Regions from separate parts of the Homo sapiens genome. Here region 1 is linked to region 2. A link means that fine-mapping ties the variant in region 2 to the expression of a gene that starts in the linked region. Tissue or cell type: whole blood. Region 2 holds a variant in brackets; the other region holds the start of a gene. All regions are shown on one strand. Distances are from middle to middle.

Region 1 (8,095 bases), 24 kb before region 2:
TGCTTTAGGAGTCAGATCCAACACCGCCTCCCTACCACCCCGTTCTCCCAACTTCAACAGGAGTGATCTCCTCAAACCTCCTCAAACAAGGCATCAATCACTGCCTTGTGGCCACTCCTCAGTCAGCAGAACTCCTGCAGCCCCCACAATCCTGCTCAAAAGGAAGATTTTCAAGATAACGTAAGGCCAGTGTAGACCAGCCAACAAGATTCTACAGCAGGGAATCCTGTTCATTCAGGAAATCCTCCTGGAAAGGCAGGTTCAGTTAGTGACTGAGCTCGTGGCCACAACACGCGAAGGTCCAGGGACAGTGCCCGGAGGAGGGAATCAAAGCCACACCCGGGACTGAGGCCAGGCCCTCCTCCCCCATCCTGTCCTGCCTCACCTGTCCTCAGGGGAGGGAGGGGCCCTACCACGGACCCCAGGGGCGCATGCATACCTGTGGCGGGGTGAGCCCATCACTGTAGCGAGGAGGGGTGACAGGACAGTCCCGAGAAGGCCAAAGCACATCATCAGCCCACACTGCCTCTGCCCTCCTCCAAGGCCCCTCCTGGCACCCCCTGGCTATTCAGTCAGCCCTGCCTTTCGTGGCCACCTCGATTTAAGGTGCACCCGCAGGTGGGCCCGGAGTAGCCCCCAAATCTTAGGCTTTTGAGTCACATCCAGCCGGCAATCCTATGAGCACCTACTGTACGCATGCTTCCTGTTCCTTTCCGTCCCCCAAGGACCCCCTGGGAGGGAAGAGTGCTTGTCTGCAGCAGTTTGACCCTGCCACCCAGCAGAGAGGCGTGCAGGACAGGCTGAAGCAGGAAGCCCCTGGGAGGGGCGGGGAGGAACTCTCAGCCGGCTGGGGCCCCTGGCAGCAGAAGCTGAGAGACAGGAAGAAAGGGGGCTCCTGTTTTCCGAGTAGAGGGACAGACTGTTGGCAGAAGTGCCACCCCCTTCCTGAGGGCCCCAAACCCTCCCTCTGCCTGCCCCCTACGCCAAGGGGGTGCTGGGAGGTGGGGTCAGCATACCCAGCGCAGCCACCCACCTTGAGCTTGGAGCGCCGGCTGCAGGAGGACATGGCAGTGAGCTTCCTTGGCCGGCCTCTCGGCCTCTTGCCTCTCTTCCGGTTCTGCACCTCCTTCTCATGTTCCCTGAAGGCACACCACTAGTTAATGGGGGAGAAGCCCTGTGCGTACCCCTTCTACCATGTGGGACTCTATGGCTTCCAGCACCCTATTCCTGTTGGCCTGTAATAGCTTATCCTGTTTGCCGCAAACACATCATCAAATACCCAAGGCAGAGATCAGACCCCATTCTTTGCACTAGGGTCAGTAACCAGCCATCCCATTTCATTTGGCTAAGGACAAGCTGAAGACAGGAAAGCAACGCTGGGAAAACAATGACGCCCCAGTATTCTCTGACTTAAGACAGCTTCCTGCAGGTGCACTGCTGCATGGAAATTCTAGCATATTCTAACCAGAAGTGGCCTCGGTGGCCACACGGTCCAACCTCCTTACTTTCAATAGGAGAAGGAAGCCCAGGACAAGGAGATGCCACCAATCCCCTGGGCAGCTTCTGGTGCATAAAACCCTCACCCGGGCAAGGAGCACCGTGGGCCCTGTCCTCCAGCCCTCGCAGAGCCTGGCTGCTGGCACATGACTCTCCTTGTTTCCTTTTTAAAAATACCTCTCTGTTCCTAAACTCTACTCTTGAGGGAGATGACAGAGGTGCCGAGGTCTGAGGCAGGCAAGGCTCAATGCACGCACCACTCGCAGTACCCCCCCCGCCCCCAGAAGAGCCTCCACACCTCCAGGGTCATGAAGTGCTAGCAGAACCTCCAGCCCCCAGGGAAAGCCTGTATTTCAGAAAAGGGGCCCTGGTAATTATCTGGGCAAACATCATCTCATTGGGGCCTGGAAGGCAACCTCCTCAACACAGTTCTGATTAGTACCAGGCAAAGTTCATACTCTTAAGTGCTGGTCCTTAACCTGAAATCTCCTAAAAGGACAATGAAGTGTTGCATGGATCTCCTCCGCTGAAATATTAACCTGTGCACTGACTGCTGTGATCCTGTGCGTCGCCAAGGGCCATACCCCCACCCCCTCCAATACCAAGCAGGTAACCGCCAGCTCCTAGTGCCCAGAGAGAGCTAACATTTTGGTGGATGGAGAAGGCTGTCCCACCTTCTCTGTTTTCTTTCTTCCACGATGTCATCCAAGCCACCCATGGGTTTTACACTCTTCTTATCTCAGGTGTTTCTGCTCTAACCAAAACCACAATCTCTCTCAACAGTTAGGACACCGTCTTAGATCCAGAGAAGCGCACCAGCCTCTGAAGTGGGCCAAGCCATTCCCCCACCCCAAGGCTCACAGCACCCAGACAGGAACTAACAGAAGACGATGGGTTGCTGTTACGATTTTCCAAAGGGATTTAAGCAAGCACAGGCTCTTCTTTTTGCTCGCCCCACCAGAAAACTCTATTTCCCCATTATCATGACCCCTCTGGGAAGACCCAATATGTCCCGCTACAGTGGAAAAAAGGGAATGCACCTTTTGCTACCAGAGAACAAACCGTCCAGATTGACCCTGGCTGGGAAAGACTCCAGCAACCAATTCTTCTGCCTCTATCCACAGGGCAAGTCCAGCCAGGGGATCCAGGGGGAGCCGTCAGTGAAACCACCCCCCATCTTGCCATTGCTTGAACAGTACTCCCTGGCCCTTCATGCCAGGTGGGCACATCCACTGCCCTCTCCTCACCACCCCTTGCCCTTGAACATCTCAAGGAGGCCTATCTCTTAACCTAAACTTCCTACCTAAAAATAGAAATGACATCTAGAATTACAGAAACAAGTCTGGCCCAATCCGGCCTCATGGTGCTACTTGGTACTGTATGCTGCAGGCCAGAGCAAAATAAATGTTTCTTTCTTGAGAGAGACATCACAATAGGCACAACTGCGTGCTGTGTGTTCCAGCTCCCTCTCTGAGCCTTCTTGCCTGATGGCACACGCGTGCAGGGCTGGAAGGGCAGACCTGCGTCACTGTGGCAAACCTGCTCTCCTGGTTTTCTGTTAGCGCCATGTGCAAATTACTCAGCAGAAAAGGCCAAGAGAAGCTATAACATCTTTATCTGAAGCAACTGAAAAAGTTGGTTTTTGCAAGTATGGCTGTCGGAAACACCAAAGCAGCACTTACTTAGGTTCTTCTCAGGGATGGATACAGGCTGGCTAGGAGAAGGTGGGAGAGGGGCTGGCTGGGGACTTTTACAGCCAGCCACAGAGATGGCCCTGGACACAATCTTGCTAAGGGACCTCAGACCACAGCCCCAGCTCCAGCCTCCCGGCAGGCGAGCAGCGCCCAGCACGACTCCAACCAGCCACCGTCCCTCCCCCACACCCTCCCCAGTGCTGTCAGCGTCCTCACTTCTTCTGGAAGGCCAGGAGCAGCCTCGGGTCCAGGATGTTCTCCTCCGGCTCCCAGCTGTTATGTCTGCAAAGCAGAGGACAGGGCAGCATTAGACGCCAGGCTGATGATCACCGCTTTGCAAGGCAGCCCGAGGGGGCTCGCCCTCACCGCTCCTCGACTTGGGCCGATGGCAGTGGCACCGTAGCACCATGGCACTTCTCAAAGTCCAAACCCAGGTTTTGGAGGCTGGCCACCCCCCACCAAGCCAGCACTCTAACCTCAGACCCAAAGGGAAACTGCCGCTCCAACCCCCCAATTAAAACAAGGCCACAAGAGGACTCCCACAGTCTCTGCCTGGGAGAAAAACAAACCCCCATAAAACGCAAAGTTGCAGAGAGGGATTCCCCCAAACCCTGGCCCGGAGCCAGAGGAGGAAGGGAAGGCAGGTCCAGCATGCAGGGAGGGGCACAGGCGCCCAGCCCGAGATCCAGAACAATGTGGCGCGCGGGCCGGGGCACCTCGAGGGGTAGCGAAGAAAGAGCGGGGTCCGGGAAGACGCAGAAACGGGGCCGCGGGAGCAGCTGTGCAGAGAGCCCCTTCCGGGGATGCCAAACACCCTCCCTTCCATTAAAAGAAAGAAAAAAAAAAAGAAACTCTACATCCATCAATAGCAAGCTCAGGTTACAGCGGGGAGAATCTGGCCAAGAGGAGGGGGGCTTGCATCCCGCGCCTCCCTCCCGGCCGGGACGGGGGTTGGGGGGAGCGCGGCGCGGCAGCCGAGGAGGTTCTGGCGCGGGGGGCCGCCCAGCTCTGCACCCGCGGGCGTGTAAACAAAGGGCAACCTCGGGCCGGGCGGCCCCCGCCCCCCTCAGAGCCGGAGGAGCCCGCGGGGACCCCGCGAACTTCCCGCTCTGCCCGCGGGCGCCCCCAGGCCACCGGACGGCGCGGCCGAGGGGCTCCACGTCCCCACCCCCGGGCGAGGGGGCGGGAGGGGGGCGCGGCGTCGCGGGGGACTCACTTGGAGGACCAGCCGCGCCACTTGACCAGGTACTCCAGCTTGCCCTGCGGGGAGAGAAGAGGGGCCGTGAGCCAGACGGACAGCGGGCGGCGGGCGGGGGGCCCGGCGGGCCGCACGCACCTTGCGGAGCCGCTTGCTCAGGATGCACTCGGCGGCGAAGACCTGCTCGCCCACGCTGCTCAGCTCCTCCATGCTGCCCGGCAGCCAGCCCGACCGCGGCGCCCGCCGCCAGTCACCCGCCCGGACCGCCGCGCGCCCCGCCGGCAGCACACAAAGCACCGCCCCCGCCCGGCGCCGGCCCGCCCCGCGCACGCGCACCGCCGCTCCGCGCCCGCGCCCCGGCCCGCCGCCCGCCCCCGCGCGCTGCCCAAATCCCGTGCGGGCCAATCAGCGAGGGGGGGCGGGTGCGGGGCGGGGCGGGGCGCGCATTGTCCGCGGCGGGCTGGGCCTCGCGCTCCGGCGGGGGGTCCCGCGCGGGGCCCCGGGCGGGGGCGGGGGCGGGGGTGGGGGCGCGGGCGGGCCCCTGGCTGGGGGAGGAGGTGCCTAGGGACTTCGGGCCTGGGGCGCCCACCGAGTCCCGCGTGATTCCCGGGGCGCGCCCGCCCTTGCTCCCAACTCCGTTTTCCGGGCAAAAAGCCATTGTTCTGGCCCGAAGGGAGGGAAGCGGGACGGGGCGCGGCGGCTGCTTCCTGCCCCCGCCTTCGAGGGGCGCTGCTCCGGGGCACGCGGGGCCCCACCCTTCCCCCGGCTTCTTGAACTGGCTTTTCCTCGGCAGCGGGGGAGTCGCTCTGTTTTGGACGAGAGCAAAACGGGTCGGGGGCTGGGGAAGGAAAGGAAGACGAAGTCCGGGGGAGGGGCCCACAAACCCCAGCAGCCGAGGCTTTTTCCCCCAAAGGCGAGAGAGGAAAATGCTTTAACTTAAACCACCAAGCACTCTGAGAAAGAAGTAATACGAACTGCCCGGAGTTCTTATTAAACAGCTATGAAAAGTGGATCCAGCCCCCGAGTTTTAGGGCACGTGTAGGGAGAAAACCAGCTGCACCTTTTCTGAATTTGTTCCCCGATTTTGATGAAATGGAGGGGGAGGGGGCGGTTTGCAAGGCTGTTCCTAACTTCGGACTAGGTCAGTAGTGGCCCGCCAGGGCTGGGCAGCCGGCGTCCTTCGGATCAATTGTCCGCGGCAGAAAAGGGTCAGGCCATGTTATGAAAGTGGGGGTGACCCCTTGTCCTCCCTGTGATCGTCGTCAGCAGGCTACCCTTTTATTCCGGTGTTAAGATTCGAATTCCATGAAGAATCACCCTTTAAGTTATTTAGATTTTGAATCAGGACAAGTCAAACACGTAATGAAAGAGACCTGAGCCTTAGCTTCATTCGTCTCAACGCAGTCTAACTCCATGAAAATTCACTCTCTGCTTTTCTTGCTTCCTTGAACACAGCTGCAAAATTCTCTTTCTGTTGAGCAGATCCAAAAGTCGTTTCTTGTTGTAGGAGACTGTCTCAATGTAATTGTGATCATCAAAACCATATTTATAAAGGGTTCTGCAGGAGAAATGTGTTTTTTTGTTTTTACAGAAAGGCCTACTGGAGAAAATACTGAACTGTAGGAACCGATCTTTCAATTTATGGCGTGTTCTTCAGTTTCTTTGGTTAGATAGGTTACATTCATTTGATTTCCTGGAGAGTACGTGCAAATTCAGATGTTGTTTGCAAAGAGGGCAGGAGAAAGGGAAATGTCCTTGGGGGGAAGGTGTTTGTTTACTCAGGGGCAGAGGCAGTAAAGAATCCTTGTGTTGGGATAAAACTGGCCTCTGGAGTGAAGGGATCCGCTAACAGTGTCTCCGCCGGCTCCTTTTGTATCCCTGTCTTGTGCAGCTTGGCAGTAAATTGTGGAGTTGAGGGCAAAGGTGTATTTATTGTAATCCTACAAATAGCTGGATCAGTTTCACATCACGTTTCCTTGCAGAATTCATCTTGGGTCTAAGATTTTGCCCTGGAAGTTTCCAGTTTCCTCTTTGACTCATGGTATGCTGGGATACTTGCTTGATTTCTTTTTAAAGAAAAGAAGGCTTTGAAAAGGGAATGATTTCTTTGCTTAAGAAATAAATTTGCTAGAATTTGATACTAACACATTGAAAAAAATAAATCAGCGTCCAGGAAGGTTTAACATGTACATCATCTACCCAACTGCAAACAGTTTGGGTAAAATAATATTTAGATAATTCATTTGGAGAAACAAATATGACAGATTTGGCCAGAATGAAATAATCAGATACATTCTGTGAACGTGTGATCCAAAATCTGTGGCACGTTCCCTAAAAACAAAGCTGGGAATAGGCAGAAGGGAAGAATAACCCCCAGCTAATCCAACTGTGTAAAACAAGCGGACGTCTTCCGTTTTGACTGTCACATTTTAAGAATTATTAAGACAAGTTAAAACTAATTATTGTATTATTCATTCGACAGATAGTTAGTATGTACTATCATGTGGGCACTACTAGATATCCAGTAGTATAAGACCGTAGCAGCAGCTCCATCTGTGGGTGATGGAAGTGGATGGACAGAGCCTCCCTCCACTGCGTCCAGTGTGGTGGCCGTTAGGCACCTGGGACTGCTGAGCACTGGCAGTGTGGCTAGTGCCACTGAAGGCTCGAATTTTAAATTGTATTTCACTTTAATTCATTTCAGTGGGAGTAGCCACATGTAGCTGGTGGTCACTGTACTGGACACTTTGCAGGTCCACAGGAATGAGAGGGATCTGCTTTAAACATATTTTAAATGAAAGTAATACGGTTACATAAATTAATCCTGGAATATGAATAGTTTACCTACACTCACAGTTATGCTTAATTATATACAAGAATGTTTAAAACACATACAAAAAAGATATTAAAAATCCAGGCACAGAGGAAGACATTCAGGGAGTACAGACTTTGTATAGTACTGATTTCCTTTCTACGCAAGTGATAAGGACAAGTATTAACTTATTCGTGTCTGAAATGCTACTAAGAAAGCATAAGTATTTTCACGCTATGCTTGTGGATCGAAAATTACAGATGCCAAAGCAAAGAATGTCTCACTCTGAAGTCAATGGAAAAGTCAGGAATTGAGATCAATCCAGTGACCCTGGATTTGGCAGCTGTAACTAGGTAACAGTAGTTACTTCTTAACCAAATACTTTCAAACAGCTCTTAGATTTTCTAAAAGCACTGTCTCCCTACTGCCATCAGCGGTGTTGGCTAAAAGGAGGAACCAGACACCACCACCAGCCGGTCTGCATGGGATACACTCAGGATTTAGAATACATCACACATTTACATCACATTTAATATCTCATGTCGTAATTTGCCCCCAGCTCCTCTGCACATTTGCAAGACTAAGGTGTGACTTACAGGCTAGCTGTGTTAATGTCACGCCGTTTCTGTGTATGTAATATGTGAATATTACATATGCGGGACAGACCGTGTTTGTGTATCAGAACTCAAGTAAAAATAAGCACAGTTCAGGCACTTGCAGGATCCCTCAAGCTTTCAGTTTGCCTAAGGACCCCTGGGCACACGATGCACATGTCCGCCCCTGGATTCTGACCCAGGACAAGCCAGAGGCAGCCCAGGGCTCTCAGCGTTTAGAACACTTCTTACAAAGGGCAGCCTGCCCAATCCCTCGCTGTGCACATGAGGCAGGAGAATA
Region 2 (8,099 bases):
CCTGCCTCAGCCTCCCAAAGTGCTGGGATGACAGGCATGAGCCCTCACACCTGCCCTAACATTTTGATGGATGAAGCCAAATTGCCCTTCCAGAAGCTTCTGCTTGTGCCCAGGCACATTGACATGAGGTGAGAGGCCTGTTATTTCCATTTCTTATCAGCAGTAGCTTTTATCAAGCTTTAAAAGATGCCACAAGATGAAAACTACAACTCCATTTGATTTATTTTCTTTCATTACGATTGAGGCTGACATCTTGGCTATTTGCATACTTCTTTTGAGAATTGTCTGAATATATTATCCAAATCATTTATCCATTGTATTAGGTTACTCATCTTTTTCTGTTGTATTTGTAAGCATTCGTTGTATATTAAAGGCGCTAAGACCAGGTATTTGGAAGGCTTGAGAAGGAAATAATTTTTTTTGTGTTTTGAGACAGCGTTTCACTCTGTTGCCCAGGCTGGAGTGCAGTGGCATGATCACGGCTCACTGCAGCTTCCCACTTCCAGGTTTAAGCGATCCTCCCACTTGTAGTTTGAGTCTCTGGGACTGCAGATGTGTGCCACCACACATGGCTAATTTTTGTATTTTTTGTAGAGACGGAGTCTTGCTATGTTGCCTAGGCTGATCTCAAACTCTTGGGCTCAAACAATTCACCTGCCTTGGCCTCCCAAAGTGTTGGAATTGCAAGTGTGAGCCACTGCGCCCGGCTGGAAATCTTTTTTTTTTTTTTTGAGATGTAGTCTCCCGCTGCCACCAAGGCTGGAATGCAGTGGCTTGATCTTGGCTCATTGCCACCTCTGCCTCCTGGGCTCAAGTGTTCCTCCCACCTCAGCCTCCCCAGTAGCTGAGACTACAGGTGGGTGCCACCGCACCTGGCTGATTTTTGTATTTTTTTTTTTAGTAGAGACAGGGTTTCACTATGTTGGCCAGGCTGGTCTCGAACTCCTGACCTCAAGTGATCTGCCTGCCTCAGCCTCCCAAAATGCTGGGATTACAGGCATGAGCCACCTTGCCCAGCCTGGAAATCATTTTATACCTACAGCAAAACGTCGGTGATTCTACTGTCCATGTGAAAACTCAACTATCAACCAAGCTGTTCTTTTGCTCCAATATCTCAATCATGCAATCACCAACTTAGATGTTCCAATTTAGTTTTAGTAAATGCTTTAGAAAAAAGTAAACCTGGAATGGGAAGGCACCATCATTTCTCTGCCTTGTGCCTGTAACCTCCTTCACTATTTACCACCCCTCTTTAGGGCCTCGAATCCTGCCTGAGCTCCATGAAGGCTGCAGTGACTTGAGTTGGCGTGAGTGGAAACCTCTGCCTCCACAGTGAAATGTCACTGACTACTGGAAATTAGGCGAATGCATTAGTGCACAGCAGAGGTGGCACGGGGAGCGGTCAATGTGTGTCAGTCTCCCCTGGCGGACGGTGGCGAGCTGAGATGAGGTTGTGTCTGCCTTTGGGAGGTGGGGGAGAGCTTGGCCGATGAAGAGGGGTGGGGGTGGCGTGGTACGGGAGCTTGGTTGAGTAGAAGGAATGGGTGAGGGGGAGGTGGACCAGGAGGATTCCTGATACAATATAAAGACCCAGCTACTGGAGCAGGGGCGCATTTGCTGACCGTGCTAATGTTGGTTCCTACCCATGTTTGTTGACCCCAAAGTTTACTTGGTGACAATATCGAGGCCAGCTGAGGACTAAAGAGAAAGGTGGTTGGTGACGGGGCTCCCAGGATGGGGCCTGGGGGATGATGGGGAACAGCTTCTATCCTTCCCTTCTCCAATGTGTTTGATGTCCTTATTCTAGGCTGGGCTGGCCTGATATTGGGCATCAGTGGCAGCTCTTTGAGCACTTTGCGTTTGGGGCTGAGGCTCTCGAGAACATTTTCTTGGGAACTTTTACTGTTCTTTCTCCTGCATGGAGAGGCTTTCCCCATCTGCTTCCAGGTGGCTTTGCAATTGAAACTCAACAACGCTGAAGCCCTTCTTCCACACAACCATGCTGCGGCCTCTCCGTTGCCTTTCCACATCCCTCCAATTAAGCCTTTGGCTTCATTTATGCCTCAACATCCTCCTTCTAGTTCCACTGTGAAATGTTATGAGATAATCCAAGGGAAATATTTTCACTTCGAGATCACCACAGGTTGCACCCTGAATCTCTGGGTTTGGTGTGGCTGAGCAGATGGGATGAAGTGCCCTGGGCACACCTAGCCTGTTCACCCCTTGGCGAACATGGTGAAACCCCCATCTCTACTAAAAATACAAAAATTAGCTGGGCGTGGTGGCACGCGCCTGTAGTCCCAGCTACTCAGGAGGCTGAGGCAGGAGAATCGCTTGAACCCGGGAGGCGGAGGTTGCAGTGAACCGAGATGGTGTCACTGCACTCCAGCCTGGGCAACGAGAGCAAAACTGTCTCAAAAAAAACAAAAACAAAAACAGGGTCATCGGGCCACCCTGGGCTGGTCGACACATGAGGATAGGCGGCTTCCTCACCAGCCTCTCATTCCTGCCACAGATCCCAGCACTCTCTAGGGTCACTCAGCACTGAGACCAGAGGTTGACCACTGTTTGTAACTGTGTTTATGCTGTTGCTTTTCTTATAGTTAAGAAGAAAGCAAACTATTTCCACTACCTGTGTCTCTATCAAAAGTGAAAAATAAAAGCAGGTGGAGGGTCTCTGGGTTTCAGGGAAAGGGCTTTCCTTCATACCGAGCAGCACACAGGAAGGCGTGGGCCAAAATCACTGGTGTCCCGGCTGGGCGCGGTGGCTCACGCTTGTCATCCCAGCACTTTGGGAGGCCGAGATGGATGAATCACCTGAGGTCAGGAGTTTGAGACCAGCCTGGCCAACATGGTGAAACCCCATCTCTACTAAAAATACAAAAATTAGTCAGGCGTGGTGGCGGGCACCTGTAACACCAGCTACTCAGGAGGCTGAGGCAGAAGAATCGCTTGAACCCGGGAGGTGGAGGTTGCAGTGAGCCGAGATGGCGCCACTGCACTCCAGCCTGCACCACAAGCGTGAAACTCTGTCTCAAAAAAACAAAAACAAAAACATGAAACAAAATCACTGGCGTCCACAGCAGCTGGGAGAGGCAAGGACGGGACCTCTGCAGAGCCTGCAGAGTGAGCACGGCCTCTCTGGATTGGACTTCTGGCCTCCACACCTGCGAGGGAACACACCTGGGTGGCTCAACGCCCTCAGTCTGTGGTGCTTTCTCAGAGCAGCCGCAGGAAACCAATCCAGCGGGTCGCCTGATCATCAACATGGACGAGAGGGAAGCAAGGACCTGTCGCCTCAGGACACTGTCAACACTTAACTGTGGTTTGAATGTTTGTGTCCCTCCAAAATTCACGTTGAAACTTAATCCCCAGTGCAACAGTACTGAGGAGTGAGAAGGCCGTAATGGCTCTGCCCTCCGGGGAGGGATTAGAGCCTCATATATTATATTATTTTATTTTGAGATGAGATTTGTATTATTTATTTATTTATTTTTTTGAGACAGAGTCTCACTCTTGTCGCCCAGGCTGGAGTGCAGTGGCGTGATCTTGGCTCACAGCAACCTCCACCTGCTGGGTTCAAGCAATTCTCCTGCCTCAGCCTCTCAAGTAGCTGGGATTACAGGTCCTGCCACCACGCCCGGCTAACTTTTTTGTACTTTTAGTAGAGACGGGGGTTTCACCATGTTGTCCAGACTGGTCTCGAACTCTTGACCTCGAGTGATCCACCCACCTTGGCCTCCCAAAGTGCTGGGAGGCGTGAGCCACCACGCGTGGCCTTGAGATGGGATTTTGCTGTGTTGCCCAAGCTGGTGTTCAATGGCACAATCTTGGCTCACTGCAACCTCCACCTCCTGGGTTCAAGTGATCCTCCCTCCTCAGCCTCCCGAGTAGCTGGGACCACAGGTGTACACCACCACACCTGGTTAATTTTTAAATTTTTTGTAGAGACAGGTTTTAGCCATGTTGCCCAGGCTGGTGTTGAGTTCCTGAGTTCAAGTGATCTGTCTGCCTCAGCCTCCCAAAGTGCTGGGATTACGGGCATAAGCCCCCGTGCCTGGCAGGATTAGAGCCTTATTATAAAAGGGCTTCCCTTCCTCCATGTGAGGACACAGCATTTTACCCCTCTGGAGGATGTGGCAACGAGGTGCCATCTGGGAAGCGGAGATCCTTGACCTTGGACTTCCCAGCTTCAGAACTGTGAGAAATAAATCTCTATTACTTATAAATCACGCAGTCTGCGGTGTTTTGTGACAGCAGCAGGAACAGATGAAAACAACACAAAATACGTAACGCTTTTGTCTTGTGTTCACAATTGCCTTTGGGTCACTGTAGCAGGACGGGGCCCCACTCAGCCTACGGAATAGCAGAGGGCCTTGCCCACTCTACAGTGCAAATACCACGTGGAGCTCCTCAGCTGAACAAAGAGAAAACTCGGCACAGAGGGAGTGAATGATTTGCCCCAGGTCTCGTGTATGATCAATGGCAAAGCTGGACGTGAAAACCAATAACGAAAAAGAAAGAGTAAGCCCTGGGTGATGATGATTAATGGGTCTCATTCTGGGTGGGCGGTGGCAGGGCCCCAGCCTCAAGTATTGCCTTCAAAAACAATCATTAGATCCAAATAGCATCTGATTGTTGTTGGAACTTTTGGTTCTTTAGAAAGGATGAACATCTTTTCCTATGCTTTACTGGCCATTTGAATTTCTTTGCAGAATTGACTGTCTCAGTTTCATATGAGAGGAGCAAACCTCTTTTGAAAACGATATAAATGGAAAACATTAATTCTTTTTCTATTCATTATTATTTTTTGAGACAGGCTGGAGTGCAGTGGTGCCAT[C/G]ATGGCTCACAGCAGCCTTGAACTCCCAGGCTCAAGCAATTCTCCCACCTCAGCTTCCCAAGTAGCTGGGACCACAGGTGCGCACCATCACGCCTGGCTAATTAAAAAAATTTTTTTGTAGAGATGTGGTTTCTCTACATTGTCTAGGCTGGTCTTGAACTCCTGGACTCAAGTGACCCTCCCTACTTGGCCTCCCAAAGTGCTGGGATTACAGGTGTGAGCCACTGCACTCCGCCAAAACCATTTCCATTAATTCTTTTTTTTTTTTTTTTTTTGAGAGAAAGTCTCCCTCTGTCACCCAGGCTGGAGTGCAGTGGCACCATCTCACCTGACTGCAACCTCCACCTTCCAGGTTCAAACGTTTCTCGTGCCTCAGTGTCCCGAGTAGCTGGAATTACAGCCACCCGCCACTATGCCTGGCTACTTTTTTTGTATTTTTAGTTGAGATGGGGTTTTGTCATGTTGGTCAGGTTGGTCTCAAACTCCTGGACTCAAGCGATCCTCCCCCCTCAGCCTCCCAAAGGTCTAGGATTATAGGTGTGAGCCACTGCGCCCAGCCAAAACCATTCATTCTTTATCAAAGTCCGAAGAACAACCATGTTAAGAACCAAATGAACAAGAGGCAACCTTGTGACAGCTGCAGCATTTTGGGGGTGAGCTCTCCTGTGGGCATGTGCAGCTTGAAAGACATGACCCATCCTGGACAGACACACCCGGGGCTAAACAGTTACAAATTTCAGGGAGCCGCCCCTAAGCTGTGTGTGTAGCTAACGTTTTCTTTTCTTTTTCTTTTTCTTTCTTTCTTTTTTTTTTTTTTTTTTTGAGGCAGACTCTTGCTCGATTGCCCAGGCTGGAGTGCGGTGGCGTGATCTCGGCTCACTGAAAGCTCCGCCTCCCGGGTTCAAGCAATTCTCCCACCTCAGCCTCCTGAGTAGCTGGGACTACAGGCGCCTGCCACCACGCCCGGCTAATTTCTGTATTTTTAGTAGAGACAGGGTTTCACCGTATTGGTCAGGCTGGTCTCGAACTCCTGACCTCAGATGATGCACCCACCTCGGCCTCTCAAAGTGCTGGGATTACAGGTGTGAGCCACCGCACCCGGCCTGGTAACATTTTCATTTACAACACTGGACTCGCAGAGGGGTTTCTCCGCAGGTTGGTTTGTTGAAAAGGTTGGTTCTTGCCTTTTGCTCTCCAGAATGTGTTTCTCCCGAGAGCTGGTGATTAAAAAACCCACTTCCGGCCGGGCGCGGTGGCTCACGCCTGTAATCCCAGCACTTTGGGAGGCCGAGGCGGGCGGATCACGAGGTCAGGAGATCGAGACCACGGTGAAACCCCGTCTCTACTAAAAATACAAAAAAATCAGCCGGGCGTGGTGGTGGGCGCCTGTAGTCCCAGCTTCTGGGGAGGCTGAGGCAGGAGAATGGCGTGAACCCGGGAGGCGGAGCTTGCAGTGAGCTGAGATAGTGCCACTGCAGTCTAGCCTGGGCGACAGAGCGAGACTCCATCTCAAAAAAAAAAAAAAAACCACCCACTTCCCTGATTAATTCCAGAATTGGAAATACATTCAACCTGTGTATTTTATTAAAAGGGACAGCTGGGGAGGTGTTTGTTAAGGTGTGCTCTGCTTCCCACACCAAAAGCAATCTGATGACGTTTGAATCGGATGACGGAGAGTCATTTTCCATGTCGAGTCACCAGTGTCGATTCACAAAGTTTGGTTGACGGCCCACAGCTGGGGCCCAGAAAAACCCGAAGGGGAAGTTTGCTGGGGCTCTCTGCGGTGCCCTTGGCCACCTTCTCCGTGCTTCTCCGACCAAGGAGTCCGGGCTCCTGCCGGGCTCTGGTGGGAGCTGATGGATCTCAGGTGAGGACAAGTCAGGCTCGCTTCACCCAGCCCTTCCCTCTGAGTCTCCCAACAGAAGCTTTTATTAACCACCCCAAAGATGGGACAGCTCTGTGGAAGCCACTGGGCAAACCCTGTCTGAAACATGGTCATTATCTGCCTTCCACTATTTTTTTTTTTTTTAAGATGTGGCCCCAGAATCTGTTTTCTTTTAGTTGTGGTAAGACACACATAACAGGGCCAGGCACAGTAGCTCATGCCTGTAATCCCAGCACTTTGAGAGGCTGAGACTGGCAGATCACCTGAGGTCAGGAGTTTGAGACCAGACTAGCCAACATGGTGAAACCCCGTCTCTACTAAAAATACAAAGGTTAGCTGGGCGTGGTGGTGTGAGCCTGTAATCCCAACTACTAGGGAGGCTGAGGCAGGAGAATCACTTGAACCCAGGAGGTGAAGGTTGCAGTGAGCTGAGATTGCGCCACTGCACTGCAGCCTGGGAGACAGAGGGAGGCTCTGTCTCAAAAAAAAAAAATGCACATAACATTTACTATTTTAGCCATTTAACAGTGGCACTTAGTCCATTTACAATGTTATACAGCCATCACCACCATCTAGCTCCAAAGCGTCTTTATTATACCAAAAAGAAATCCATTAGGCAGTCACTTCCCACCCTCCTCCCCCAGCCCCTGGCCACCTCCCATCTCCTTTTTGTCTATGGAGTTACCTATTCTGGATATTTCCTATAAGTGGAATCGTGTAATATGTGGCCTTTTATGTCTGAATTCTTTCACTGAGCATGTTTTTCACGGTCCATTCATATTAAAGTATGTATCAGTACTTCATTCCTTTTTTTTTTTGAGACAGCGTGTCGCTCTGTCACCCAGGTTGGAGTGCAGTGGTGCAATCATAGTTTACTGCAGCCTTGACCTCCGGGGCTCAAGAGATCCTCCCACCTCAGCCTCCCAAGTAGCTGGAACTATAGTTGTGCACAACCACACCTGGCTAATTGTTTTTTCTGCTTGTAGAAACGGGGTCTTGCTATGTTTCCCAGGTTGGTCTTGAACTCCTGGGCTCAATCAATCTTCCCACCTGTGCCTTTCAAAGTGCTGGGATTACAGGCATAAGCCACCATGCCCGGCTAAGTACTTTGTTCCTTTTCATGGCCAAATAGTATTCCATTATATAGATAGACCACATTTTGTTTGTCCATTCATCTTTGATGGACATTTGTTTTGTTTCTACCTTTTGGTGAGTGTGAATGATGCTGCTTGTTACATCTGTGTGCAAGTTTTTGTTTGAACACCTGCTGTCAAGTATTTTGGGTGTATACCCATGAGTGTAATTGCTGAGTCATATGTTTACACAGGAAATTTTAAATTTAAATTATGACTCAAATATTGATATTTCCAGATA

Evidence for each region. PIP is the estimated chance that this variant, and not a neighbour inherited with it, causes the effect.
Region 1: it holds the start of CBX2, and the variant in region 2 is fine-mapped to the expression of CBX2 in whole blood (TOPMed, PIP above 0.99).

Annotation. Positions count from the first base shown.
Region 1 is chr17:79,774,740-79,782,834 of GRCh38, reverse strand. CBX2 (chromobox 2) reads right to left here and starts at 4,687. Exons shown (of 5, transcript NM_005189.3): 1 at 4,528-4,687; 2 at 4,408-4,451; 3 at 3,408-3,473; 4 at 1,034-1,139. The coding sequence starts at 4,599. RefSeq lists an enhancer at 3,434-4,027 and silencers at 4,423-4,492, 4,503-4,882.
Region 2 is chr17:79,750,871-79,758,969 of GRCh38, reverse strand. LOC124904070 (a long non-coding RNA gene) reads left to right here. Exons shown (of 2, transcript XR_007065927.1): 1 at 1-128; 2 at 1,257-1,626. Among named protein-coding and RNA genes, the nearest start is that of CBX2, 23 kb to the left of the region's middle. The variant C/G (reference allele first, on the strand shown) is at 4,841.